Linked DNA regions of Homo sapiens: all the other regions are linked to region 1. The links come from fine-mapping of genetic effects on gene expression. A gene starts in region 1. Each other region holds a variant in brackets. All regions are shown on one strand. Distances are from middle to middle.

Region 1 (4,066 bases):
AGCTAGATCCACAAACTAGACATGAAAGCAGTTGCTTGCACCCTCTCCAATCCCTTTGCTTCTGCCAGGATGCCAGACCAACCACTCCTTTTGGGTTACTCGGGAAGCACGAAATGTGCATTTAGGAAACTGAGATTTGATTTCTATTATCGATAAAGCTCATCTGAGTCAGTTGAATCTTAGACGACAAACAGCAAGAGGGAAGAGTGGGTGTAAGGAAACAGATGGGTATTAATCATGTGTCAGAGATAAATGACAGTTTTTTAAAGAATTTGATAGGGTGTGGGCTGGAGCTTGCTTTTTTATTTTCTATTTCTATTTCCTATTTTCTATTTTTAGTTTTGGGCAAGAGATGGAGATTAGGGGTGAGAAAAGGAAGGAAGAGAAAAGGCAAGACAATAGGCCAGACCCGAGAGCCTGATCTGCATCCTAAAGCAGTCTGCCCCTCCCTCCCTTCCCCCCAACACCAGGTAGGCTGTGGTGTGATTTAAAAATAAGCAGACACCGACTCCCGCCTCCGGGACCGGGGATGGCCTCCGCCCCGGCTGCAGAAAGGGAGGGGAGGCAGGGAGAGGAGAGGGAAGATGGAAGAAACAGACTGGCAAGACCCCCTCGGGTACAGTGGGATTTTTCCCTCCAAAGTGGTGGAGCCGCATAAAATCAAAACCCACGAGGCCCGCTCACGTGCCGGTTGCCCCGATCTCAATGTAGGCGGCTGCCGACGCCGCACCTGCTCGGCCGGCCACTGCGGCTGAGCGCCGCGCAGCCAGCGATCGCGAGGCCCCGGGGGACGCGCCCAGCCCCGCCAAGCCCGCCTCGCACCGCTACCCCGGAGGGCGGCGGCCGAGCGGGAAGGAAAGAGAGGGGAGGGGAGGGAGGGGAGGGGAGGAGCGGCCCCGCCCGGCTAGGCGAGGCGAGGCTTGCCGCCCCTCCATTCGGACCCAAAAGAAAGCCCCACCTGTCAGGCGTTACGCTCCGGGCGAGGGTCCCACCATCCCCAAGCAGGGGCCAGTGCTTGCAGCCCCGATTTCCTAAGAGCCTCGGATGCTACATCATCACCAGAAACCTTTAGGCGCAAAACACACCGCTGCCGGCCAGGGCTGCAGCACCGACGCGCTCGGCAACAGACGCGCCCCACCTGGGCCAAGCGGCTCCCGCCCGGCCGAGGGATGCCAGGGTCTCCGCGCCAGGAGACCAGCGACCCCAGGCAGCCCACCAGGCCCGCTCCCCAGACCCTTACCTCCTGCGCGGCATCTTAGCTATCTCCGGTCGGCCACTGCGGGTTGGTTTTGTTATTTTATGGGTTTGGGGGGTGGGGTGCGCTTAAAAAATCCACCCAGCTAATCTGCAGGGCAGCGTTTTCTGCCCATGCTGCAGCCCGCGCTCGTCAGAGCTGCTGGGAGATCCCCCAGCAGTGCAGCGGCTCCGCGGCGGCGGGGATGACTGGCCACCGACGCCGCAGTTCCTTGACAAAAGGCTCGGGTTCCCGCTAGTCCCTCACAGCCCTGCCGTCAGAATTAAAGCCATTTCCCGCACGAGGCTGGGAGGAAATGAGAGCTCTCCTGGCCCTGCGCGCTGACAAAAGGCCGCTGCGCGGTGCCCACAGCGCCCCCTCCAGCAGGCCGCGCCGGCCGCCCGAGGGCCGCGGTGCTGCAGTGCCCCCGCCCGCAGCGCCCCCCACCGCCCCGCAGCGGCCTCGCCCCGCAGCACCCCCACTACCGCCCCGCAGCGCCCCCCTCCTCCCCGCAGCGCCCCCGCCCGCGCCGCCGCAGACCCCCCTAGCCAGGCTTCCAGCCCCCTTCCACCCCCGCCCCGCACCACTCACTACCCGGGATGGCCAGAGCTAAGCAGGGGAGTCTGTTACTAGGGAGAAAATCTGAAACAGAGCTCCCTTGGGGGAATGTATTCTCCCTGGAAGGAAGAAAGCAAAAGTCTTAGACTTGGAATATTTCTTTTCGTCTGGAAAGGACAGCTAGCCTTCGGAAGATAATTCTATTAGTGATTTTAATAGCAATTGTTTGACTGAATTCCAAACCAAAATTCTCCCTGTCCTGATTCTCACTCCTTTTCAACCAGGACAACATTTTTGTTGTGGCCCTGCCCTTGGGGGCTGTGGACCCAACGCTCTCCAACTCTCACTACATTCTCCTCTCACTCCTTTCCTTCCTCAGGTCTCCCGCCCCAGAAGGAACAGGTGTGTAGTGAGTGGGGAACTGGATAGGGAACCAGAATACTTCGGTTGCCGTCTCAGAGCTGCTCTTAACTAGCTGTGAGACCTTAATCAACCCACTTAACCTCTCTGGGCCTCGTTGTCTTCCTCTGTAAAATGACAGTGTACCTAAGGCACCTCCCATTTCCAATACTTTCAAGGCCTGGCCCTCAGAGAGTAGGGGTGTTAAGAGATAGCTCTGGACTTTTCACCCCCATAATCTCCACCAGTCCCCAAAACTCCCCTCAATCAACATCCTCTCCAAGGGCTTTTGAAAATGTGCTTGTGAAAATGTACAGCTTCCAGAAAAGCCTCTGGCCACTGATCTGAAACCTGATCATGGCCCCTCTGCCCTTCCAGGTTCTGGGGCACCACAGCCCTCAGACACCCCCACAAAAGTCACTGGCCCCCACCACAGTGCTGCTGTGGAACCAGAATCTCTGGAGGTAGGCTCAGGATTGGTAATTTTAACAAGCAGCCCTAGTGATTCCTTTGCACACTAACACTTTAGAAACACCACTCTGAGAGCTACTACTGATTTAGAAAAGAAAATGCTAACGACAACCCTAGATGCCAGGATAAACTTGTCTTTCTGCTTCAGCCCCCCTTCCAAGAAACATACATGCATACCTGGTCCCTGCACCCTCCTTCCACACTCAGAGCTTCTCACTCATTCTCATTCAGAATCACCGAGTCCACAAGACTTCTCCCCATTCTCCTGTCAAAACCTGCTAGAAGAATTACAACAGGCTCAGCCACACAAGATGAAACCCCTTCCCCTCCCCACCCCAGGACCTAGGTCTGTCTGGTCAAAGAAGCCAGGACGTGTTATGTTTATTGAGTCATTCCTGGCAGCCATAGCTCTTTTGGTGCTAATGGGTGATGAGATCTGAGAAACAGGGAACCCCTTCTCCAGAGCTCAGAAGTCACAGGTAAGGTGGGCTCTATATCTTAATAGAACCCCCAAAAAGAATGGAGAATTTTTGTTAGAAATAGCAGGTTTCATAAGTCACCCCAGTCATTTCCATCCCCCAAAATTTCTCTTCCTAGTGTGTTATTTTGTTTTCTCACATGAATCCTAGCAAACCCTTGTTGGTTCCTGGCACTGTTCTGAGAGCTTTACATGCATTTTCACATAATCCTTGCAAAAACTCTGTGAGGGTGGTACTATTATCATCCCCATTTTATAGATGAAGAGACTGAGGCACAGGGATGTTAAGTCGCTTGCCCTAGGTCACACAGCTAGTGGGTGGCTGAGCAATGAATCAAACTCAAGTGCTGTGGCTCCAGAGTTTGTGGGCCCTAACCACTACACTGCATGGCCTCCCAGAGGGGACAATAAACTTTTTTTTTTTCTTTTGAGACAGAGTCTCATGCTGCCCCCCAGGCTGGAGTGCAGTGGCATGATCTCAGCTCACTGCAACTTCCTCTCCCCAGGTTTAAGCGATTCTCCTGCCTCAGCCTCCCGAGTAGCCGGGATTACAGGCACGCACCACCACACCCAGCTAATTTTTGTATTTTTAGTAGATATGGGTTTTCACCATGTTGGCCAGGCTGGTCTGGAACTCCTGACCTCAGGTGATCTGCCCGTCTCAGCCTCCCAAAGTGCTGGGATTACAGGCGTGAGCCACCACGCCTGGCCAAAAATAAACTTTTTAAAGCAGAGCTGGTACAAGACACTGAAAGGCTGATAAGACTAATACATTCTCCTTCCCCCCGGCAAAAAAAAAAATGATTCTGCTCCCCTAGTCATCACAGGAGATACATATATATATTTATGTTTATATATGTATATATTATATATATTACATATACACAATATATATTATATATATTACATATATTTTTATATATATA
Region 2 (4,066 bases), 24 kb before region 1:
TTCTTCTTTTCCTTGACGTCAGAATAAAGCTTCCCTGCCTATGCAGATTTAAGAACTACCCAAAACATGTTTTTGGTTAAGAAAGTGCTATTTCTGAGCTAGTTATTTTTTAGAGAGTAAAACCCATTTGTGTCTGCTCACATGAAAATGTATAATCAAGTACATTACCAGAGAAAATATTCACTGGGCCCAGTGACACACCAGAAACAGCTCAGCTACATCTGCTTGGAATCAGCTCTTGACAAGGCAGAACTAAGTTGTAGGTGTTCTTAGCTAACTTTTAATATTTATACATATTATTTATTTTAGATGAAGTGAAATCATTTCCCTTAAAAAAAGAAATGGACTGCTGGTTGAAGAACAGGAATTCTAAAAGAAAATATGACGATATCTGCAATCAAAGTGATGGAGCTCAAGGTGAAACATCAAGTCAGGCTCAACTGGTACCTATTGATTCTTCAACTCTTGTTGCCTATAGAACAACAGTGAATGAAATAAGAGGAATGCCGCAAAGAAAACAAAGTACTGTAGCCATTATCTGTCTTTGGGGCTGACCTTTTAGGGCAATACAATCCACTCAAGTCCTTGATGTGCTCTGTATGTATAAATCTGGCAAAAGAGTTCTATGTTCCCTGCCATAGAACACCATTTGAACAGCACCTAGGGAGCCTACAAATGAGGTCCCTGGCTATACTTACATACATCTTAATGTTATGTTTTTTTAAGTTATGTGATATTTAAGTTTGTCAATGTATGTTTAACTTTGCCCATGAGGGAAAAATATACACTCTCTTTGAAAATCTTATTAAATCCTATCCTATGGATCCTATGTTACAGATGTGTTAAGTGAGAATCTTGCTTCAAAAATATTAGTACTGCTGTTGCATAGCACAGTCCACTCAAGAATCCAAGACTGTATTTAATGAATTAGCTAAGGAGGTCAAAATTATCACAGCAAAGTCACATCTTATGATAGACTGGTCAGCGTCCATAGCCTGTCAGTACGGTCAATATTGGCTGGAGTCAAAATTATCATTGAACATCTCCTCAGTGGACATGAGGAATAGGGCATGGCTCTCCATGTATCACCCCACACAGTACTGTGCATGTGTAATTGGATAATACATACAGTAGCATATGACTCATAAAAGGACATGTGCAAAATATAATTTGGTTGTATTTTTACTCCACTTCTCTGAGAGCTGGATTACCATGAAAGAAATGTGAGCATAAGGCACCTCTGGTCGAAAGGAAAAGTTCAGCATTTCACAGAGGAAGAGGCAGCGTCTTATGGCTGTCTCCTCTCTCCAGGCTGCTTTGTATGTTACCACCAGTCAGGTAATTTATTAGGGACAATATCTGCTTCAAAACACTTAACAGTGGGAGAAGAAGAGAAGAAAATGCTCTTTCTTCTCAACAAGTGTGTAACATTTCAAAGAAGTTTGTAAAATTCTGAAATACTTGCCAGGTCTATTTAAAAATAAATCTGGTTTGAAAAACCTAGAGTAGAGGCTTCCTGGAAGCTGTGGCTATACTGTATTTAAAGTCATCAAGTCTTGTAAGGAAAAACAAGAGTCAACAATGAAATAGGAAGAAAAAAGTGTTCCAGGCCAGATTACTATAGCAGGTACAAAGGTCCTGTGGTAGATCAGAGCATACAGAGCATGAGGAATTAAAGGAAGGCCAGTGTGGCCAGAGCAGAGCTGAGAAGCCTAGAGGGGACAGCAGGGATGACACATGGCAGCCAAATCATGCTAGGTCATAGCCATCCAGTCAGCCATTTACTCATTTGTTCATCAATCAAATACTTATCTTCTATGTGTCAGACACTGTTCCTGGTGCCAGGGGAAATACAGGAGTAAACAGGCCAGGTAAGGAGCTTATTTTTAGTGTTTACATCCTAAATGGATAATACATCCTACACTCTTAAAACTCAGAGTAATAAGAACTATGACAAGAATTAAAATAGGGCAACATAGTCACCATTTGGTAA[C/A]CACCATGGAAATAATTGGAATTGGCAAAATTTGAATAAACCCTATAGATTAGATAGTAGGATTGTACCAATGTTAATTGCCTGGTTTATGAAAGGTTTGTCGATGTTAATTGTCTAGTTTACAATTACCAAAAATTGTATTGGGCAATTATGTAACAGAATGTCTTTGTTTTCAGGAAACACACATTGAAGTATTTATTATAGCATGATATCTGCACTTCATTCAAACGGTTCTGAACTAAATTGTGTGTTATGTGTTTGTATAGCTGTATGTGTGGACAATACATACAGACATGCTGGGACAGGGAGAAAAAGGGAAAATGACCTCTGAAGAGGTGGAAGGCTGAGATATAAATGACATGAAAGGGCATTCCTAGTGCAGGGAACAGCTAATGTAAGGCTCGAAAGCTAGACAGCATTTGATGAGTTGAAGGAGCTGAAAGAAGTCCATTGTGGCTGAAGCTGAGTGGCAAAGGGTAAGGTCTATGAGATTCGAGCACAGAGGAATTCTGCCTTTTTTCTAAGAATAATGGGAAACATTAATGGGCTTTAAATGGAGGATAGCAAGGTCCCATTTTCATATTGAATGCTCACACTGAAAAATAGAATAGGGGATGGGTCACTAGTGGGCGTGTGGGGGTCAGTTAGAGGCAGCAGCAGATGTTCAGGTGGGGAAGACCGGGCTTGGAATCAGGGCCTGGGGGAGCTGGAGAACAGTGGATAGGCTTCGGATGTTTAGGAGACAAAAACAAACAAAACAAAACACAGGACTTGGTGGTGACTTGAATGTACCTCTAATTGTCTTCTTTCGAGCATTGGATCAGTTAATGGAACTGAACTTAAGATTTCAAGGTGAACGGCCGGGCACGGTGGCTCACGATTGTAATCCCAGCACTTTGGGAGGCCGAGGCGGGCGGATCTTGAGGTCAGGAGATCGAGACCATCCTGGCTAACATGGTGAAACCCCGTCTCTACTAAAAATACAAAAAATTAGCCGGGCGTGGTGGCGGGCGCCTGTAGTCCCAACTACTCGGGAAGCTGAGGCAGGAGAATGGTGTGAACCCGGAGGGCGGAGCTTGCAGTGGGCCGAGATCATGCCACTGCACTCCAGCCTGGGCGACAGAGCGATACTCCGTCTCAAAATAAAAAAAAAAGAAGATTTCAAGGTGAACTATTAAAGTACCCCAACCCCATTCTTGCTGTAGGGTTGTTGTTGTTGTTTTTGTTTCTTATTCCCACACTCCTTTCTGGACAGTACCACAAAGTACAGAATCAGAGGAGAGGGAACAAGTTAAGATGTGAGAGGAGGGCTTCAGAGTGTGAACATTGTACTTAGATGTGAAGGGGTTGGTCTCTTCCTGAGATGCAGGCCGCCTCTCTGAGGTTCACAGTGTTTCTAACATCCCCACACAAAACAGAAAAATGGCACGTGCTGGGAAAGCAGGAGGGGCAGGAGATCTCCATCCAAAGCCAGACTATAGCCTCACCAAAAACCCTCCCAGGAGAGCAGCTAGGAACAGTAGATTGCTTGCCCCTCTTTCCTGAGAAAGCACAGCAGATGCTTTTTATATAATGTCCAATTACTCCAAGGAATGTCACCATCTTTATGATTAATGAGTTTATATACTCAGGGACATATGTGAGGTGGTATCCAAGGACAACAAAAGACCCTGCAGAGAGGAGATAAATTGAGTCCAACCCCTGTAGCCAACAGTTAGAGAAACAGATTAATTGTATGTATTACATAAATATCACTCAATGTAAGTTATTGTCAAAATAAGGACTGTTTTTATCTAAATTCACTGTGAAACAAATCTATTTTGAAAACCTACAGGTTATGGAAATGACAGGGAAAAGTTGTAAATAATAGATATCCCTTTTTCAGAACTCAATAATGAGCTAGTGAGACTGTCGTTATGATAATGACTTGTAAAATAGCACCCAATAAATAAAATACCTTTTGTGATTAAAGGGATTCTTCCAAGAAGGAATCGAACCAAGCAAGAATATTCCAACTTGCTTTGTAAGGCCCAGCTCAAATGTCAACCCCTTTGTGAGATTTTCTCTGATCTC
Region 3 (4,066 bases), 110 kb before region 1:
AATCACCCTCTGGGTTTTATGGGGGCTCAGTGGGTGCGATGCATGAGATACTTAAACAACACCTGCCACATATGTGTGGATACTCAAGGAATACTGAGCTTCCACAGTAGTTTTTGAATAAAGAGGAGCCAAAGGCTCTCTTTCCTCTTTTCTCTCTTCCTTTTTCCCCACCTAGTCTCTCCATTCTCCTTTCACCCCTTGGGGTGACTTCTTAGCCCTCTCCAAGATTCTCACTCTGGCCTGACACCCTCTTCCATTCCAGCCTATAGATCTGCCGCTGCTGCTGCCCTGCAGGGCCGTCCACATGTGTGTTTGTGCAATGCTCCTCCCCTATCCCAACCCACCTAAACTGAGCTTCCTCCACAGAGCTGTTTCAAATCCACATGGCCATTTCCTTTTCAGGAGAGTCTAGTATTTTATAACCGCCCTTCCCAAATCAGAACACAAGTAGACACATGTTCAGCTTTCCGTGTGTGAGAAATGGCCTCAAGGGTACAATTTTCTTGCGTGGTCCATGTTTCCACAGGGCCCCCTTTCTGACTTCTCCCCTGGGAGCCAGGAGAGCTGAGGAGCCGACAGAGATGGGGCACACACACTGGGAAGCCAAGCACGTTAGATTTACTAGGGTCATGTCTGCAGGTGAGGTAACAGCACACACATACAGAAATTCACGGGCAGAGATGCCACCGCAGCATCACCGTCAGACACCAAAGCAGCAGGAGGGCTCAGGAAGTGGCTTTGGAAAGTTCTCGTGAAAATCAAAGGGCAGCTTTGGTGCTCAGAGATTCAAACAGAAAACTATACAAAACCAACCCATAAATATATATATATATATAATATGTGTATATATATAAAATTGCAAAATAAAAGCCCAAGAAACTAACCACCGATCTGCACGTCAGTGGCTCAAAAAGTGTTAGCATAGAGAAAGGCAAAACCATCTGTGGGGGTGATGCATACTCAAGGGGGCCGGCATTTCAGTAGCAGAAAGAGTATTTACATGGAACCCCTATTTGAAACCTCACAATACTAGGAAAAGCTAAACACAGACAATGTATGTACAAGGGAAGACAGTAAGTACTCTTGCGTGACGATTGTCAGACACAGACATTTCACTGAAACCATCCATAGCTTTAGAGAACACTGCATTCTATCTAGACTGGGTTCCTGCTTGCCTGCACCCCAGCCAGGCGATCTCAGGCTCTGGACCGTATGTTCTCCCCCACCTGGCCTCTTCCCGGAGAGAGCAAACACTAAGATGTTGGTTGCAGCATAAATTGCAGGAATTTAAAGGTGGGGCAGTCCTTGGGTATCAATCAATCACCCACAAAGCAGGACCAACAGGTGTGAGGTGGAGTGGAAGTGTGGGGGTGGGGTTCCCTGAAATATATTCCCATTTTATAATGTGTTTCAAGTGTGGCCACTCTGCCCTTGGTCCAATTGCCATCCTCCTTCTGATTCACGTTAAAAGGGGAGATCTGGCCTTTGGGTTTTTAAACATTATACAAGATAATTTGCTGGGGGAGAGAAGAGTTTAGGGTCTTTCTACAGTTATTCTCCCACCACCCCCCAAACTCTTACGTTTTCTTTAAACTACCTAGAGATAAGCAATTTGCCGATCACAGCTGGCCTCAGTTCGGGACACAGTGGGTGAGGAGAGGAGCCCAGGACCTGACTCTACTAGAAAACTGCCAGTGCTTTCTCACACTGAGCCTCAGACTCCAGCTCTGCCTGAACCCCTTCCCTGCACCAATAATGATCATTTCTCCCCCATCTGCAGGCCCCAATTTCCCATAGCAATGACCCAACTTTTGGGAAAATCTAGAAGGTAAGTGGCACCAAACATCAATATAGCCAAACCTAATATCACCTAAGTATGAACCAATGCGACCCATTGTTTCTGTATACATAAGAACACTCCCAGCTGGAGATTCTTCCTAATTGTTCCTAAGATGAAAAGCCTACATTCTCAAGGGAATTGTCTCTATAAAAATGATGAAAGGTGTTCTCCACTAAGGGACACCCCACTGAAGTCCCCACACTGCTTCC[C/T]GGTGAGCGTGGCTGCTCATTGTGAGAGGTAAAGGGATGTTGGGCATTCCTTGGTGACCGAGCTCTACGTGTGGTCTCTCATTTATGACAGAAAGTGTGCCACATCTGAATAGGTTGGTTAGACGGGGCTTCTGGAAGTAATTACACTCCATGTACGCTTTCTTATGTTATGGTGCAAGTGGAAATGTGCACAGATAACCAATGTGCACATTTCATGAGTTTACAGTCACTACAGGCCTCTTACTTCTTGCATTAAACTATCCCTTTCAGAACAGATGTGAAACAGATGATAGGCTGCCTCACTGGCTTTTAGATTGTAGGGTGCCCTGTCCTTTCTGTGGGAGTGGAGAGCTTAAATTTAGCCTCTCCCTCATTTCTTTTCAGACTCTTTGAGTGCTAAGGTCTTAGAGTTCAACTGAGCTCCAGTGATGAGAGAGAATGTAAAAAGACCTGTTTCCTCTATGCTCAGTCAACTGCGACTGTGCCAACCAACTCTAGGGCTTCTGCTGACCTGCATGTGTAAAATGAGTAAGGGGTAAATGTTCTCTCATTTGTTCACTAGTCAAGAACTGATTACCCTTGTCCCAAAACTAGAACATAAAATTCACACAAAAGAAAAAACGTGTCAGCTGGCACAGTGGCTCATTCCTGTAATCCCAGCACTTTGGGAAGCCGAGGCAGGTGGATCACGAGGTCAGGAGTTCAAGACCAGCCTGGCCAACATGGTGAAACCCCGTCTCTACTAAAAATACAAAAATTAGCTGGGCAAGGTGGCGGGCTCCTGTAATTCCAGCTACTTGGGAGGCTGAGACAGAAGAATCGCTTGAAAAACCGGGAGGCAGAGGTTGCAGTGAGCTAAGATTGCACCACTGCACTCCAGCCTGGGCAACAAAGAGCAAAGCTCCGTCTAAAAAAAAAAAAAAAAAAAAAAAAAAAGAAAGAAAAAGAAAAAACATGTCATGCAGACCTATGCGTAGGCTGTGTGTTTACCCTCCACATACCTTCATGGAAAAATTGAAAATTATTTTTAGACTTTCAGAGGCGAATCATGCTGTTGGGCAAATGGTTCTTTCAAATCCATGGCAATCAAAGAAGTGGATTTATAGCATTTTCCCCCACACTAGCAGTAGCCCTGCTACAACAATGCCAAACATCTGAATGACTGTCTTGCCATGTCACCATGAGCAAGTGACGGTATCATCCACAGGGAATGGGATTCAAATTCAGTCTACATGGATCAGTGGCAGAGGGCAGTGCTTTACAGTGGGGTTCTTACTGTAAGAACTTACTGCTCTTCATCCAATTTCCCCCAAGTCCTTTAAAAAGAACTTATCTGTTCACAGAGGAAGAACCCTGTTTTAGTTATAGGAGAGTGGAGGGGGTCAACTGGCCAAAGTAGGACAGTTACTTGGGTTGCATGCAGGCCAGGAGGCTCTTAGGGAGTCCAGATCTGGGCTAGAAGGTGTCTCTTTCTGCAGTTTGGGAGGAAGGTCACATGGTATGGACGGTTCTCTCACACCACTGTTGGGTGCAGCCAACACTACGCAAGGAGCCGTTGGAGCCAAGCCTGTCTCTGCGAAACCACTAATCCTTCTTGTCCTCTCTCCTCCTGCCTGCCTTGCGATGGAAATAAGCTCAGAAACCTCTCCACTTCCCAGCTCAGCCAGCCACAGAGCAGCACATTGGTTCAAATGTTACCCTTTTCTCTGGCACATCCAAGCACAGTAGCTCAACCAGACATGAACCTACTGCCCACCAAATCTGAGCTCTTGAATACACATTTTCTCCAGTCAGATATTGGTCAAAGTTTTCAGCCAACTTTTATCCACAGCCAAAGAAAATGGCCTTTCCTTTCTAATAGCCTGTAGATTTGTTTGGACCACATGTCTGTTTCTGTAGCATTTGGTGCATGTCCTCAAGCCTGGAGCTAAATGTGCCACATTCTGTGCAAGGGAAGAAGAAATGGCAGGATGGCTGGACACCTCTCCCAGCAATTCTACACCAAGACAAAATAAAA
Region 4 (4,066 bases), 52 kb before region 1:
TCATTTTCCATTTTCACTTGGACATCCTGTTGTTCTGACCCAGAGCTGCTGGGGGCTGTCTCACCCAGGGCTGGCAGCATCCCTGAGTACCCCCACCCTACCGCCACCTGCCCATGGCTCTGGCTCACTGGCAGCTCACTTCATCCCTGACCCAATGCTGTCCAGAGTGGAGGCATTCGAAGAGACTCGTCCCACCAATGAGGGACAAGGAGAACTCATCTTGGTAGGTACAATGTGCCTGTGGGAATCCAGGATACCTGCACACCCACTAAGGCTCAGCCTCCTCCTCAATCCAGCCAGGGGGCCTGGGGCTCAGTGTTTCAGTGCCAGATGGTCCCTGAGCCCAGTCCTGATGCTCGCCCATCTACTTAGGAACAGGTTGCTTCTAAGAATGAGACTGTGCTCTGCACATCCAGTGCCGGCTGAGCTCCTTCTCCCAGAGGTTCTATTTTTAGCTAGAACAGGGTCCTAGCCACCACTTGATGCTGCCTTTCTCCAATGGCCTCCCTTCCAGGGCTGGCCTCAGGGTGGGGTTTGCTGATGTATCTCCACTGCCCTCCCTAAGAACCAATCTTGCAGCCTCAAACACCAGCTTCCTCTCCTTCCCCAGAAGGTCTGAGGCTGCCCTGTGGCCACAACCTGCTAAGATTTGAATTTTCAGAATCTCAGCTATTTTTTGTGTGTGCTAATAGAATTCATCCTTTGCCCCTAGAAGTAGCCTGCACCATTCTTGTAAGAAAGCAAACATTGACCCCCAATGTAAATATACAGTGAACAAAATAATTCCCACCCCAACCCCCATTGCTGCTGAAATTCCCCACCAGAGCACCATTCCTTGGGTTATGGTGTTACGCCCTAATTAAAATGAAAATAGTCCTGAGAGGTATTTGAGGCAATTGTATTAGCTAGAAACCATTGTCCTGTGGCAATGAAACTGTCAAATCTCTGATTGGGGAGTTGGGCTGAGCAGGCAGGACAGGCACCAGATCAGCAAGTTTTAATGAGAGAAGGGAAGAGAAAGAGGCCTAATGCCAGGGCTGCTCTAGAGAGGCCCCAGCACCTAGAGCAGGGCTGCCATCCTGGGGGAGTTTAGATAATCCTGGCCAGACAGAACCCTCTGAGCCTGCTGAAGCTGCTGTACCAAGCACAGCATCACCTCTTGTGCAGACTTCAGCTTCCTAGCACATGCGTTGAGAACCTAGCTCTCTCCAGCTTCCAGCCCCCACATCCCTCAGGCAGAGCAGAGATGCAAGGGACAGTGTGAGCCATGGTGCCCCATGTAGTGAAAACAGATGCCTGACACCCCCTGGGTGGTTCAGAAAGCACCAGAGGCACAGCCCCTCAGAGCCACCTGCCCCCTGCTCTTGGTGTGCAGTCAAGCTGGGCTGTGAGGCGGCAGGAGTTAGGGCAGTACATTCTAGTCCTTGTTGGCTGCCCTCTGAACTGTGAACCCGGACATTAAAACACTCAGGGGCCTTTGCCTATTCCTGTGTCCTGCAGCCTCGTTAAAAATCAACCTGCAAATGGACCATCACTCCTGCTCACCACACACCGCAGCCTCCCCAGCCCCCTCCTCTCTGCCCCCTACCAACCAGGCATCCCACCATGGGATCCCACCTTGACTCCCTCTTTTTGCCCTGCACATTTAATTGGTCACTGAGGTCTCTGGTTTTATGTCCTAAATATCTCTCCACCCGCAGCGCCAGGCCCTGAATCATGCCTCCATCTCTCCATCCTTTAATGATCTCTGGTCCACAGTCCTTCCTGGCCCATGCCTGTCACTGCCCTGCTAAAAATCCATCTCTGTCTCTAGTGGCCGTGTTCCTTAACCTTTTTTTTTCTTTTTAAAGCCCTGCTTTTCCAACCAAAACCTAGTCAAATTTAGCCTTTATTACCAAAATGGCAGGTATACTTTTCACATTTTCCAAATATAAAGTGTTAAATCCAAATGGGCTTTGTCAAACCAAATGCACACCCCATGTTAACAATCCAAGCCCATCGATGCCCAGCTGGGAGCTGTGCGTTTTTCTCTCTGCCAGCCCCTTCTCCTTGAGGACAGCTACCCTGTAGGATGAGGCTGAGACTCAGATGACACCTCTATTCCCAGCCCCCTGACCTCTCTGCATTTGCCCTGCTCTCCAGGGGCTATTCCCAGGACCCAAGAGGCACAAAGCAGATTCTTGGTTGGGGCTGGAGTCTGCCAGGAACACCCTCCTCTCTTCACCTCCTCCCTGCATTTCATGTGTCCTCTCCTCTGGCAGCCTGCCCCCTACACCCCCGCCCTGGGCTTTCACATCACTTTTA[C/T]TTGCCTCTTCCATTCCACTTGCAGCCTGGCAGCAACAATCTATTACCGTGAGCTCCTGGCAGGCGGCCTGTGTCTCTGCGTTTCTCTATCCTCCCTGTTGCCATAGGGCCTGGTGCCAGTTAGGTGCTGAACAAATGTTAGTTGAAGGTAAATTGGGAAGAGCTGGGCCAGCTTAATGAAGCAGCCCTGTCCAGCCCTGAGGTCCCAGCAGCAAGTGAGGACTGAGGGGAGCTCACGGTACAGTGTGAGGAGACAGACCCTGAAGGGTAAGGTGCTGAGTGTTCATGGAGGAGTGCATGGCAGGTGCCTCAGTGCCCAAATCACCTCTTGTCTTGGTATATAACTGAGTGGCTGGCCCCTCAGCCACCCTTCTTGCCTAATTTGAGACAGAACCCAGCAACAGATTGCAACTCTTACATTAACAAATCCGACATTAATTATGGGGAGACAGAGAGGAAGGTAATATTACATACCATGCATCACACACAACAACCTCCTTGGCTCTCCCATGTTCAGCCCTGCTCTCTTCTCTGTCTCTCTCACCTCCTCCCTTGAGCACCCCCTCACCTCCCTCAGCTGGGACCCTCCTCTCTGCACAGAGGAACCCAGGAGCTCCCTCTAGGCCTGGCAAGCTCACTTCCTCACACCTCTGCAGCCCCTCAGCAGAGTCCCTGCTTGGGATTCGCCCTGGTAGGAGGGCAGCTGGAGACTACACATCATGAGACACGCTTCCTGTCACCAAGCATCTTCTTCCCTGTCCCACTGAAGACCAAGTACATGTAACCACTGGAGTATGAAATCACATTTCTATGGATCGTTCCTTGTGGCTATAAGAGAAACAAAAGGTCTACAAGGGGAGTAATAGATGCCCGAGTTGTCTGACTTTTTGTTAAAATCGGCTTAAGCTTCATGTGCCCTAAGCAGAGGCAGGCGCCATCTCCTGCCACTTCAGTGGGGGAGTCTCCAGACAGGAACAGACAGTCTGTGTGGCTCAGCACCCAGAGCTCAAAGTGGAAAGACGCAAGCTGCCACTTCCCAGGTGCTCCCCAACAGCCATGGCCATGGGTCCCTCAGCAGTCCTGGCCTCTGAAAGCCCCAGGCCCCGGCCCCACGGATCAGCTCCCCACAAGGACGGCATAGCATTTGCTCCAGGACTTAGGCTAGAAGTCAGAAGCCAGACTTACCGATCCCTAAATGAGACTCCCACAAGTGAGAGAGGAGATGGTCAGGGCTGAGCTGCTGCTACTTTTACAGAATAAATGAAGACAGTTGAATAAGGGACTGGACCGCACCCTGCCTGATGTGTTCAGATAAAGAGAAGGCTCATGCCTCTGGTGGGTGGGATTATGGGGAAAGCTTATCATCATTTTTTCAAATGCTTCTGAATTTTACAAAGTTCTAGATTAGGTATTAACTGCTGTGATCATTTAAGCCAAAAATAGTTGAAAAGAAGAAAGAGAGAAAGAGGCAGGACAGCGATGGTAAAGTCTATGTCCATCTCCAGACACCCCCTTAGTTGGAAGAATCCTTTAACTCCTTCACTGCTGCAGACCCCATAAGTACTTATTTCTGGGCATCCCTGGTGCAAACATTCCTAGTGAAGTCCAGTGAATTTTAAAAGTCCTCCAGCAAACGACCTCAAACCTAATAGTTGGTAGGCAACGTTTTTCTGTTCTTCTATCCAGGAATTGGATTGTTGTGGCATGAATGGACTGAGTATTCTTTCTTACAGACTTGGAATCATTCCCATACCCTCTAACT
Region 5 (4,066 bases), 64 kb before region 1:
TAGGAAAATAGGCAAAGGATGTAAAAAGGCAATTTACTATAAAAAGAAAGTCAGGGGCGGGCACGGTGGCTCACGTCTGTAATGCTAACACTTTGGGAGACCGGGGTGGGTGGATCACTTGAACCCAGAAGTGCCAAACCAGCCTGGGCAACATGGTGAAACCCTGTCTCCACAAAAAATACAAAAATTAGCCAGGCATGTGGTGCGTGCCCGTGGTCCCAGCTACTTGGCAGGCTGAAGTGGGAGGATTGCTTGAGCCTGGAAGGTTGCAGTGGGCTGAGATTGCACCACTACACTCTAGCCTGGGCAACAGAGTGAGATTCTGCGTGAAAGAAAGGAAAGAAAAGAAAAAGGAAAGGAAGAAGAAAAGAAAAGAAAGAAAAGAAAAAGGAAAGGAAAGGAAGAAGAAAAGAAAACGAAAGAAAGAGAAAGAGAGAAAGAGAAAGAGAGAGAGAAAGGAAGAAAATCATGTCCAATATGTATGTGAAAATACATTAATATATCCAACCTCATCAGTAGTCAAACAAATGCACATTAAAACACAAATAAAGTATTATTTGTCACCTACTGAATCAGGAGGATGAAACAAATGGTAGTATACACTATGGACCAGGGTAGAGGAAATGGGCACTCTACCGCATTACTGTTGGGAACGTAAATTGGATCCATTTGGAGAAAGGATGTAATCTGCCATTCTGCATTAAAGTCTTTAAAACATGCATGCATGTACTTCAATTCAGCAATTCTACTAGTAATTTATCTTAAGAAAATAATCACGGATATAATCTCAGGTTTATTTACAAGGATGTTTATTGCATTGTTCCTAACAGAAAAAGTTGGAAATAACCTAAAAGTCCAACAATGGGAAATTTATTAAATAGCATGTATCCACCAAAAATTATATTATAGAACCATATTTTATGTGATTACATTTGTGTTTGCATAATCTATATATGTTAAGAAAAAAAGGACTGGAAGGATATATGTTCACCAAAATATTAAGAATAGTAATATGAGGGCTTTAAGAACACAGTAGAATGATTTCTGCTTCCCTTTCTTGGTTATTTTCACAGTTTTCAGCCATAATCCTGTAATAATCTTATTGAGGGGGAGTTATTTTTTGATGCTTGTGTTTTAAACGTTATGGGCAGAGCATAACAGCCCAGGAGGGTGGCTTCCTGCATAGCCCTGGCTGGCTCCTCTCAGCCCTCATCTGTGGAGTCAGGTTGGCCTGTCTAGTGGGGCATGGAAACACAGGCTTCAGTGGTCTCTTCCCGTCCACTGAAGTCACCTCCACCCTCTTATTCCTGGCATTGGGGTAATTTTTCTGTGGACGTTTAATTTGCAGCAACATCAGAAGCAGAGCCAGGTACCTCTCTGGCTGCTGCTGAGCTCCCCAAGGCCTGATAACACAATGGGCTGCTTACTCCATAGCCTGGCAACCAGATGCTTCTTGCTGCTCCTCCCTCTCTTCCCCACCCCACCCTCCCCTCCACCTCTGCTCCTGGCAGCTCCCCAGACACCACATACTCATGGAAGATGTCGGGAAGACTGCGTGGGAGGTGCTGGCCATGAAGTCCGCGATCTGTCGCAGGGCCCAGATGTTGGAGGAGTTGTTCCCCTTCTTCATCTGCTCCTGGATGAGGCCTTCCAGCTCCTCCCTGAAAGACTGAAGCAGGCCCCGAGGTGCTTGTCCCCCCACAGCCTCTCACACAGCTGCCCAACAATGAGCTCTTCCAAGTGCCCACCCCTTGCCCCTGGGTCAGCTAGGTCAGGGCCATGCTCAGGGTCCCCAGCTACAGGGGACACTGAGCAGTTCCACTAGGACCTCAGGAATTGCTGTATGGGAAGCAACAAAGAAATGCTGGGAATGGATCTTGTGTTCCCTTGCCCTGTGGGCAGTAATCCAGATTCCAGGTCCTTTCTGTGTCTAAATGAGGGCCAAGACCCCTCCCCACCATCAGACATGGTAGGACTTCACTTTAGTAATGAAGGACATTTTTTTAGGCAGAACTGAATGGAGAGAGCCACCATCCCTCTCCATTAGCGATGCCTGTGATTCTTTCGGGCTTCAGTTTCCTCATGTGCTTAATGAAAGGGTAGGAGGAAGAACAGGAAGATTTGATGACCTCTGAGGTCACTTCCACTCCTGATGTCCAACTCTAAGCCTGGCTTTTCAGACCATGAAGCCATAAGCAAGGAATCCTGCCCACCAGGTGGCAGGAGAAAACACTCAGGAGGAAATGGGGGGCCACTTAGGTGTGTTGGCCAACCTGTAAAAGGGAAGAAGGAAGCAGGCCCTCCTCCAACCCCTATTTACTGCCTGAGCCCTGAAATCTGGGCTGGTGCTAACTCTGCCGCCTCTCCTAACCCCCTTGCCACCCCTCCTAGTCACACTCTGGGGGTTTTCCCAGAGGCTCTTCACCCCAATG[C/T]TTTCAGCATCTGCCATATTCCTCCCAGCTCCCCAACACAATATCTGGGCACAGATATTGGACCTCGGCCCATTCCCTGGAGCTGCTCTGTGTGGCCTGAGTATGCACCATGGCTCCCAGCCAGGGTCTCACACAGCCCCTGCACAGGCCCTGGCTCTCTGGAGCCCAGAAGGCCAAGGCAGAGCGGCTCCCATCTCGAGCCCATCCTGGCAAGCAATTGGAGATGCCAACTCTGTCCCTGGGCTTCCCGATCCTTAGGATCATGGGCTGATTCCTGAGGCCCCCCAAGCTCTTCCTCAGTCAGACCCCTCTTGCCTCCACCACAGTGATCTCCCTCTGCCTTCAGTGGTCCACAGGGCCCACCCTTCGGCCTTCTCAAGGCACTACCTGCCTCAAGGAGGAGCTGTGTCCATGCCAGGCAGGAACCAACTGGCCCCAAGTAAGGAGGGATGTGAGTGATCCCGACTTGCCTTCCCTTCCCACACCCCATCCCACAGCCCGGCTGAGCCCTCCACTCTGCCCACCTCCTGGGGCTTCCAGGCTCTCCTCAGCCCCATCCCATTCATGTCAAAGCTTCATTTGTCCCGACAGAAAGTTCTTACTTTGTGGTGTTCAGTAAAGGGAGCCCCAAGCCCTCCTCCTGGCACCCTGCTGGTCTCTAGTTTACATGGATTTGTCCGTTCACTGTCATAGCTTTTGGTGAGGAGGGAAGACTGGGAACTGAGGCTCCGAAGGGGCACAGGAAACTGAGGGGGACTCCTGTCTCCGTCCCACCTCCCCCCGCACCAAGCCAAACTGCCACACACAAGCCAGGTTCTGCCATCCACCAGTTACAAGGGAGAGTGTCAAGGCCCCAGGTGACCAGATCCGTCTTGCTCAGTGGGCTTACATTTCTACTGACCCTGAGCAAGGGAAAGAGGAGTTACTCATCTTTCGGGTGGGTACACGTCCTGAAGAGCCAGCGCCCCCTGCGCCCTCTCCCGCCCGGGTCAGCCCCACTCACGGGACTCTGCAGGATCATGGTGACGCGCTTCTTCTGCTCCATCAGGTTGAAGTCCTGCCGCAGGTCCGCCGCCCGGTTGCGAAGGCGCATGTACTCGGGGTCGTCCTCTGAGAAGCGGTCAAAGTAAGGCTGCCCCTGCGGGGGCGGCGGCGAGGCAGCCTCGGGGACCGTCTCTTCGCTCATTTTCCCGGTGGGTTTGCAATTCGCTCCTGGAACTCTACAGAGAAGGGGAGAGGGTATGCGGTCAGGTTGGTGCTCCCCATCGGGGTACACGTTTCTCAGAGCACAGGGCTAGGTTCAGTTGGATTCTCAGTGGGGTACGGCTGTTCCTAGGATGGTAGAGGCAGAGCCTGGGGAGGAGGGCAGGACGCCAGCAGCGGCCCCATATACCCATCTATAGGGGCGCTGCTGTGCCATGAGACTAAGTAAAAACATGGGTTCAGGTGTCCACTCCCTTCCCCAACTAGCCAGCCCTTAAATGGTCACACTTGGCTTGGAGTAGAGAGTTCCCCGAATGGAAACATGACCTGCAGACCTTGTTGAGCATTTCTGTGATGCACACCTATGCAGTGGTAAGCTACTTACTGGAAATCAGTACTTCATCTAAAATGGAAACCCTCTAATAAGGCCC
Region 6 (4,066 bases), 120 kb after region 1:
ATTGCTTTTATGATTTAAAATACATATTACTGTGGTTTAGAGAAGAAATTGTTTCTTAAAGGACAATTCCTATTTCTTTCTTCAGCCTCAAGAGTCAGAAAGCAAGACAATTAGTATTTTTAAATAAGGAAATGTAAACTAGTTTTCAGTAAAACATAATTTACAACAATAATGATTATGTAATCATGCCTCTATTAATACAGCAACCGTTTAAAATAATGCAAATGCACAATAACCAGGCTGTCTGTTTCCAATTTCCTTGGACTGGATGGCGAGAATCCCACTTTCCTGGACTTTTCCACCCACATTTATGATCCCTCGCAGCGTATAACCACTACGTACCTCTCCAAACCCAACAAACTTTGCAGCCTGCGCAGACAAAGGTTTCTATGTTTCTCTCTCCATTTCTACTTGGCAAACCCCTGCCTGGGGCTGTACTCGGGAGTCACCTTCACTTCCTTGCTAAGTCAGGTGAAGCCTTACCTGACTTTCTCCAGGCTGGGGAAAGAACCCCCACACCCCTCACCCACTCCCCGGCTCCCATTGCCTCTTCTTTCCTCTCCCTACCGTGCTGCCCACTTTGCGCGGTAATTTTTGCTCCAAGGGCCTGCCTCCCAGAGGCTTGGGGTGCAGGGAAAGTGCTCTAAGGGTGGGACTGATTTAGTCTGGACATTCCTGACCGGTAGCACCACGCCCATAATGACCCGAAAATAAATGCCTGCGTAAATTGCTTTGGGAAGCGGTTGGGCAATTTATTAAGAGTAGTGAAAATGTCCCCTTCCTGCTGAAACAGTAAGAATCTTGAAGAAATAATCCTCCCCAAAGGAGAAAACTATATACACGAAGATTTTAGGTTGTGTATTATTTTCATACAGAAAAACTGGACACGGAAGAATATCAAGTAATTGAACGGTTAAGTAAATTACACAGTAACATAATAGAGCATTACTCGGCCATTGAAAAGTATACTTATGAGGATCATAGCACATAGCAAATACTGAAGTGTGGCCTCAAGTAGAAAAGACTGAATACAAAACTACATGTTCACCAGGACTAACATTATGCAAAATAAAGATGCACATTTAAAAAAAAAAAAAAAAAAGACTGAGTCTTTTAGGGGTAGCACGGGGATATTTTTCCTGCTTTCAATTCTATTATTGCTGTTCTAGCCATGCGAACAGTGCACAGAGGTTGGAAGTGGCGTCAAGAGGAGTCTTACCATTGTGTATATGACTGTAAAACTGAGAAAAAGAAGGTAATATCAGCCTGGGGAATGCATTTCTAATGGCGGGACTTCCTGCACCTTGACCTGCCAGTCGGGGTTGTGGCCCGGCAGTGGCATTCCCAGGGGGTCTCAGAACAAAACGACGGCCACAGAGTCCACCTGGACAAAAGGGCAGGGAAGGGGCCCCTCGCCCTTGACCCTTGGGCTCTGCTCCGGCCACCCTGAGCCGAAGGCTGTTTGGGTGAATGCGTGGGGTTTCTCCGGCGATCGATCCCTTTGGACTGGCTTCCCCACTAGCAACCTGCGCGTCCCCACCAGAACCAGCCGGCTGGCCGAGCGAAAGCCCGGTTTCGGGAGACCTTGCGGGGAGAGCAGCTGGCCCTCGCCCACCGGGCCGCGCTTTGTCTAGGGCGCGAGTCCGCCCGTTTCCGGCCCCGCCCCTCGCCCTGGTCCCAGTCCGCCCCTCCCCCTACCCGGCTTCCGCGTCTCCGCTCCCGCGCTGCCGGCTTCCGCGGCTTCCCCCACTTCTCAGCCTGCTTCTCTCTCCCCTCTCCTTCCTTTCCTGTCCTTTCACACTCGCGCCCCAGCCCCCGTCACCATCTACCCCAAGGACTTGCAAACTTCGCCCCTGAGGAGCGGACTCTTCGGTTCTCCGTGGAAAATCAACCAGACCCAAAACAGAGGTCCCGGGTTTGGGGATACCACGCCGCGCGCCTGAGCATCCGGGCTCCATTTCTCCAGGCGACATCTGCGGGAAGGGAGACCTAAAGGCCAAGGCTGGGGACGAGAGGCAGGTGCCTGGAGTAGTGGACGGTGGAAATGGCGACGGCGGCCTGCACCCAGCGATCCCGAAAGTGCCCATGTATCCGTCCATCTGGGTTTTTTTTTTTCTTAGATCATCCACCAAGGCCGGGGTTTCCGAGTGAGGCGCCCACTTCGCATCCCACAGTACCGCCAGGTGTGTTTCCCATGAGCTCT[T/G]TAAGAGAGAACCCAAGAGCTCTTTAAGAGAGAACCCAAATAATGTGTGAATACCTTCTCCAATAACTTCAAGTCAGAGGCTCAGACACACACACACACACACACACACACACCCCTAAAACATATTTATTTCGTGGAAGAGCGTGTATCCCTCGGCTGTCCTTCCAGCTCTCCCTTGGTGCGTGTGCAGGACGCACAGAAGGGTGGAGTGTGGGTTGCGATTATTTTTACACAGAAGGTGTCACACTCTGGGATCTGTTCCGCAGGGAGGCCACAGGTGCCAGGAGACGCGGGAGAGACTGGCTCCTGCCAAGAACATTTCTTTGCATTGTTCAGTGCGGTTTTTTATTTTTATTTTTGACTGTTTGTTTGCCTAAGAGATGACTTCCCTTGCCAGAAAAAAAAAAGTGTTGTAAAAATAAAAGGAAACGGGATTACGATGTAAAAGACGAATAGATAAACCCGGTTCCGCAGATCTGCGGCGCGCGCGCCTGGCGACCTCGGATACATTCATTGAAGTTGCCGCGCACTCGTACCCGGGTTCACCTCGCCCCTCGCTCATTCCTCCCGACCAAGGCCCATGGTCAGAGGTGTCCTCGCCCCGCGGCCGTCAGAGGGCGCGGCCTACACTCGAATGCCGGCCGAGCCCTCCACGCGCTCGGAACTTGGGCTTCCCGGTGCAGCCTCCCCGCGATCGCAATGCCCGCTGCCTTTCCCGAGCCCAGTCCGGAACCCGCCTCTCTCGGGGACCTTGACCTCGCGCGGACCTCGTCGCCTTGCTTAGCTCTCCCTGACCTGCTTTTGAACCCGCTAATCCCGTCCCGAACTCTCGCCCCGCGGCAATCCCTCGCCCCGGCCCTGGCGCGCTAATTCCCGCTGACCCCGCCGCCCCGCCGCCTCTCTCCGCTCGCGCGGCTGTGACCAGGATAAGGGCTTCCCGCCTCTGAGTGCAGGTGTGATCTGGAGCTCAGGCAACTACTGCCCCCGCATTGTCCCCAGCCCGCGCTCGCACCCCCAGGACCCAAGCAAAGCGTCTCTTGCCTCAAACATTCTGCCCTTCTCTTGCTTCCTCTTGTTTCCCTAGCATAATTCATGTCTTTCTTTAAGAAACCCATCGGACCCACAAAGATCAAAATCTTCGGTAACACACCAAACTGGCGACGCTGTGGGGAAGCAAGCACTCTCCCAAGTGGCTGGCGCGCAGTGAGGGCGCAGGAAAGGTAAGCAGGAGACCCGCCGCTAGGAGCCAGAGCCAGGCCGGCGAGGCGGGCAGGCAGGAAGAACCGCGGACAGGGCGACTTGATCTCATTTTTAAAACCGGAGAGTGAGATGGGACGAGAGCTTGAGCTTCTAGGGATGGGGCTGAGATTCTGGAGAGACACCTGGTAGTCATTTCTTAATCTTTTGTGCTGCTTAGAATTTTTTCTTAGATGCATGTTTTCCTTTTAAAAGAAAAAGAAAAAAAAGAAAAGGCAGAGCGGGGTGGCTCACACCTGTAATCCCAACAGTTTAGGAGACCAAGGAGGGAGAAGCCCTAGCGGCCAGGAGTTCCAGATCAGCCTGGGCAACATAACGAGACCCTCGTCTCTGCAAAAAAATAAAAAATAAAAAATTAGGCGAGTGTGGTGGTGCCTGCCTGTTGTCCTAGCTACTCAGGAGGTTGAGGCAGGAGGATAGCTTGTGCTTAGGAGTAGAAGGTTGTAGTGAGCCGTGATCGTGTCACTGCAACCAGCATGGGCGACAGAGTGAGACCTTGTCTCTTAAAAAAAAAATAGTAAAAGTCATTATTTTAAAAGTTGATGAAATTAGTTCACACTACACACATTTACAAACACAGGTCACACACACACACAAACACCTCCA
Region 7 (4,066 bases), 210 kb after region 1:
ACAGCTCTTTTCTGGGACTATCCCACTGGTTCTAATTCTTTTACCCAATAGAGGCTTTAACCTCAGGAGTTTTTACTAGTCAAGCTTCAGTTGAAAGTGACAGAAGCTCAATCTAAACTAGCTTAAGCTTCAAGAGGATCCTGGGGTGGTTTAGAGAATAGATGAGGAGCATCTGGCCTTGGGCACTGGCCCTGGAGTGTACAGACAGTGCCTCTCTAGGTTCTCCCCCAACTGCTCCCTGATGGACCTGCTCCCCTCAGCCTTCCATCTCCCTTGCCTGGAGCTGTAGAACCAGTTAATCTGGAGCCACACCCTTACCATCACCTTCCAAAGAAGAAATTGAACCCTTCTCTGGGCATTTTCTGCTGTCTGCCCTTCTCATGGTCCAGCTTCTGTTGTTCCACCAGGCGTTATCTGTTTGCCCAGCTGCATGGCTGTGACCAAGGGTCTTTAGGATAACACATTCTCTCCCCCCGGGGACTCTGCTAGTTTCCTGTTTCTTCCTCCCTTACTCTATTGACCCTTCTCCCTCAAAATCACCTGCAGCCTCTTGCCTCCCTGACTGAGGCAGAAAGGCCTTAAAGTGGTTCTCAACCCTGGCTACACACGAGAATCACCTGGAGAACTTTACAAATACCAATGCCCAGGCCCCAAACCAGATGAATTAATCAGAATCTGTAGGGGTAAGACCCCTGCATTGGTGTTTGTACAGCCAGGGTTGCAAAACACTGGTATAGAGATGTAAGATACCCCAGTTCAAGATAGTGAGGATGAACTTGGAGAGGTACTGAGATGCTCTCTCCAACCCCACCACATACACAGGGTCCTGTTGTAATTATTAGAATCCTAACACCCCAGAAGCAACAATAGCCCAGGAAATCTTCAAACTGTATCCCTGAAAAGCACTGTCACTTTATCTCAACTTGAAGCCAGTTGCTAAGGCCCTACCTGGGGCAGATAGCCAGCATGATTTGCTAGTTTTGAAGGTGTTTGCCAGGTATGCTGAGTCCTGGCTACTGGGGTTGGCAGACAAGTGCGCTCTCAGAAGACAGTACCCTGGAAAGGGAGAAACGTGATTCTGGGTGGATAATCTGTATTCTTGTCCCTCTCTGCAGGTCACTGTGGTCTTAGGGGACCTTCTGTCCTTTTCTTAGGGGAAATACCTGGAACGCTGGGGTACAGAGGAGAGACCATGGTAGGGGTGGAGTGATGTAGTCAGATATGCCCAGAGTTGACCCTGGAGCCACAGGAGCCTTCTGATAAACTTGGGGTCATTCCTGTTGAGAAGGGATGAGAATGTGGATGGCTCAGTAAGACAACACTGATTCAAGCAACAGTTATTGCTTAGCTACTCTATATTCTAAAAAGTCAAAAGGCAAACTGAGGAAAATATTGACAACAAATATAACATACATAAAGGGTCACTATGCTAATAAGTTTTACAGATCAGTAAGAAACACATTAAGGCCCTCAAAGAACCATGTGAGTAAAAGAATTCCTAGAAGACAAAACCACTGATAATTAAATGTTTAACCCTTGTTGGTAATCAAAGAGCCACATTAGAACATCATTTCCACTACCAAATTAGTGAACATTTACTTAAAATCCTAATATCTGATGCTAGCAATGGTTTGAATAGTTCTTCTTTGAGTAATAGCAGATTCACAGGTAGTGCTTCTCTG[C/T]TAGCACTGTTCTCATTGTTTGCATTCCTTCATTCCTTGTAAAGTAGGTGCTATTATCCCCATTTTGCTGCTGTAGCAACTTGTAGGGACCAGCCCCACAGGGTGGGTGGGTTTTTCTCCCCGTGTGCGGAGATGAGAGATTGTAGAAATAAAGACACAAGACAAAGAGATAAAAGAAAAGACAGCTGGGCCCGGGGGACCACTACCACCAAGAGGGCAGAGATCGGTAGTGGCCCCGAATGCCTGGCTGTGCTGTTATTTATTGGATACAAGGCAAAAGGGGCAGGGTAAGGAGTGTGAGTCATCTCCAATGATTGATAAGGTCACGTGAGTCACGTGTCCACCGGACAGGGGGCCCTTCCCTGCTTGGCAGCCGAGGTGGGTGGGGGTGGGGGCGGGGACAGGGGGAGGGAGAGAGAGAGAGAGAGAGAGGACAGCTTACGCCATTATTTCTGTGTATCAGAGACTTTTAGTACTTTCACTAATTTTGCTACTGCTATCTAGAAGGCAGAGCCAGATGTACAGGATGGAACATGAAAGTGAAACAGGAGTGTGACCGCTGAAGTACAGCGTCACAGGGAGATGTTTAGGCCTCCAGATAACTGTGGGCGGGCCTGACTGATGTCAAGCCCTCCACAAAAGGTGGTGGAGTAAAGTCTTCTCTAAACTCCCCCTGGGAAAGGGAGACTCCCTTTCCCGGTCTGCTAAGTAGCGGGTGCTTTTCCTTTGCATTGATGCTACCGCTAGACCACGGTCCGCCAGACCAGGGTCCGCCAGACCACGGTCCACTTGGTAACCGGCGTCTTCCCAGACGCTGGCATTACCGCTAGATCAAGGAGCCCTCTGGTGGCCCTGTCCGGACATAACAGAAGGCTCGCACTCTTGTCTTCTGGTCACTTCTCACTATGTCCCTTTGGTTCCTATCTCTCTATGGCCTGGTTTTTCCTAGGTTATGATTATAGAGCGAGGATTATTACAATATTGGAATAAAGAGTAATTGCTACAAACTAATGATTAACGATATTCATATATAATCACGTCTATGATCTAGATCTAGATCTAGTATAACTCTTGTTGTTTTGTATATTTTATTATACTGGAACAGCTTGTGCCCTCGGTCTCTTGCCTTGGCACCTGGGTGGCTTGCCGCCCACAGAAACTAAGTCAGATAACTTGCCAAAAGCCACACTGCTGATGTGCAGCGCACCCGCTTCACTGCAGGTGGAAGTGGAAGTGAATAATAACCTTCCTGGAAGGCAGTCTGCAAGCCCATATTGACAGCTGAAAAATATTCATTCCCTTTCACCTAGTGATTCGACTCCCAGGAATCCATTCTAAGAAAACAACCAGAGTTGAGCCATTTCGTTCTTGGCAGCACATGTGAAACAATGGCACATCCATTATGACGCTGGGCTCTGGTTGCGTCATAATGTACGTTTAGTATGTGGAGTGACAATGGGCGCTAGCTCGTAATATAATGCTATTAATAAACGAAAAGAGATACAAAAAATAGTCATGATATGCATATATATTGCAATAAACCATGATTTCTGTGCGTGGTGGGATGGTAATTTTTAATTTCCACATTGAATATTTCTGTTTTCTACTTATTAGTTTGATAATCGGAAACAAAAGCCAAGTGTCTTTGTTGTTTGTGTGTTTGATGCTGAGTTTCCCGGGCAGCAGGACTGGGAGGTTGAGTGGGGGTTTTGGCTCAGACCGGGAGCAGAGCGGCGGGTGGGGAGCGGCAGGCGGGCAGGGTCCCCGGAGGCCCCCGGGCTCTGCCCCTCCAGCTAGAGAGGCAGCCGAACCCTAGCGGCCTGGAAGGGGCCGGGAAACCGCGGCCAGCTGGCAAGGAGTGGCCCCCGGGGGCGGGGCGCCGGCGGGTGTGTGAGTAGCCCGCCCGGCCCGGGTCCGAGTTCCAGCCCCGCGATGGCCTCCGCGGGCAGCACCGCTCGGCGGGCGGGCTCCGGAAGCTGGCACTCAGAAAGGGGAGAAGGGAGAGGTGCTCGGCCGCAGCCAACTCCAAGTGGCTCCATGCAGCAGGCGAACAAAGTCTCCTTGAAGGCCACCTGGACTGACGCGGAGTCCAAGCAGCCCAGGTGGGTAGCGGGAGAAGGTGTCCCGGCTGCAGGGAGCGAGAACCCGGCCCAGCGCCTCCCTGGTGGGCAGGGCCTGGAGCGGGCGGGGGCGGAGGCTGCGGCCCGAGAAGCCAGCAGAGACAGGCTGGGGCCAGGGATCGCCTCCCGAGAGGTGCCTAGGCCGTGGCCCAGAGTCGCTTCCCCACTGCCCCGCCCACCAGCCAGGCGGGGGCCAGGGATCGCCTCCCGAGAGGTGCCCGGGCCGTGGCCCAGAGTCGCTTCCCCACTGCCCCGCCCTCCAGC

Direction of the effects. Positions count from the first base shown, and alleles are read on the strand shown. Sizes are in standard deviations (SD) of each study's normalised expression. Not every link is listed here.
For the expression in stomach of the gene that starts at base 1,555 in region 1, T is the high allele of the variant in region 4 and C is the other (small effect, 0.31 SD a copy in GTEx).
For the expression in esophagus mucosa of the gene that starts at base 1,555 in region 1, T is the high allele of the variant in region 5 and C is the other (small effect, 0.34 SD a copy in GTEx).

What was found.
Region 2: its variant is fine-mapped to the expression of ADD2 in whole blood (TOPMed, PIP above 0.99).
Region 3: its variant is fine-mapped to the expression of ADD2 in whole blood (TOPMed, PIP above 0.99).
Region 4: its variant is fine-mapped to the expression of ADD2 in stomach (GTEx, PIP 0.98).
Region 5: its variant is fine-mapped to the expression of ADD2 in esophagus mucosa (GTEx, PIP 0.96).
Region 6: its variant is fine-mapped to the expression of ADD2 in tibial nerve (GTEx, PIP 0.92).
Region 7: its variant is fine-mapped to the expression of ADD2 in whole blood (Lepik 2017, PIP 0.95).

What each region holds. Positions count from the first base shown.
Region 1 is chr2:70,766,646-70,770,711 of GRCh38, forward strand. It overlaps ADD2 (adducin 2), which reads right to left and starts at 1,555. Exons shown (of 16, transcript NM_001617.4): 1 at 1,241-1,555. RefSeq lists enhancers at 690-1,255, 1,256-1,821, 2,231-2,795.
Region 2 is chr2:70,742,154-70,746,219 of GRCh38, forward strand. All of the region lies in intron 1 of ADD2 (adducin 2), which reads right to left. Among named protein-coding and RNA genes, the nearest start is that of ADD2, 24 kb to the right of the region's middle. RefSeq lists an enhancer at 2,476-2,977. The variant C/A (reference allele first, on the strand shown) is at 1,994.
Region 3 is chr2:70,656,188-70,660,253 of GRCh38, forward strand. It overlaps ADD2 (adducin 2), which reads right to left. Exons shown (of 16, transcript NM_001617.4): 16 at 597-4,066. Among named protein-coding and RNA genes, the nearest start is that of TGFA, 100 kb to the left of the region's middle. The variant C/T (reference allele first, on the strand shown) is at 2,050.
Region 4 is chr2:70,714,193-70,718,258 of GRCh38, forward strand. The region is part of intron 1 of ADD2 (adducin 2); the gene reads right to left. Among named protein-coding and RNA genes, the nearest start is that of ADD2, 52 kb to the right of the region's middle. RefSeq lists an enhancer at 1-142. The variant C/T (reference allele first, on the strand shown) is at 2,305.
Region 5 is chr2:70,702,791-70,706,856 of GRCh38, forward strand. It overlaps ADD2 (adducin 2), which reads right to left. Exons shown (of 16, transcript NM_001617.4): 3 at 3,436-3,652; 4 at 1,531-1,669. The coding sequence starts at 3,618. Among named protein-coding and RNA genes, the nearest start is that of ADD2, 63 kb to the right of the region's middle. The variant C/T (reference allele first, on the strand shown) is at 2,433.
Region 6 is chr2:70,886,166-70,890,231 of GRCh38, forward strand. LINC01143 (long intergenic non-protein coding RNA 1143) reads left to right here and starts at 1,706. Exons shown (of 4, transcript NR_126384.1): 1 at 1,706-2,015; 2 at 2,121-2,183; 3 at 3,311-3,423; 4 at 3,656-3,819. RefSeq lists an enhancer at 1,563-2,213. The variant T/G (reference allele first, on the strand shown) is at 2,204.
Region 7 is chr2:70,975,032-70,979,097 of GRCh38, forward strand. ANKRD53 (ankyrin repeat domain 53) reads left to right here and starts at 3,599. Exons shown (of 6, transcript NM_001115116.2): 1 at 3,599-3,784; 2 at 4,066. The coding sequence starts at 3,615. LOC105374795 (a long non-coding RNA gene) reads right to left here. Exons shown (of 2, transcript XR_001739534.2): 2 at 1-1,277. RefSeq lists an enhancer at 2,229-2,498 and silencers at 3,526-3,615, 3,976-4,035. The variant C/T (reference allele first, on the strand shown) is at 1,683.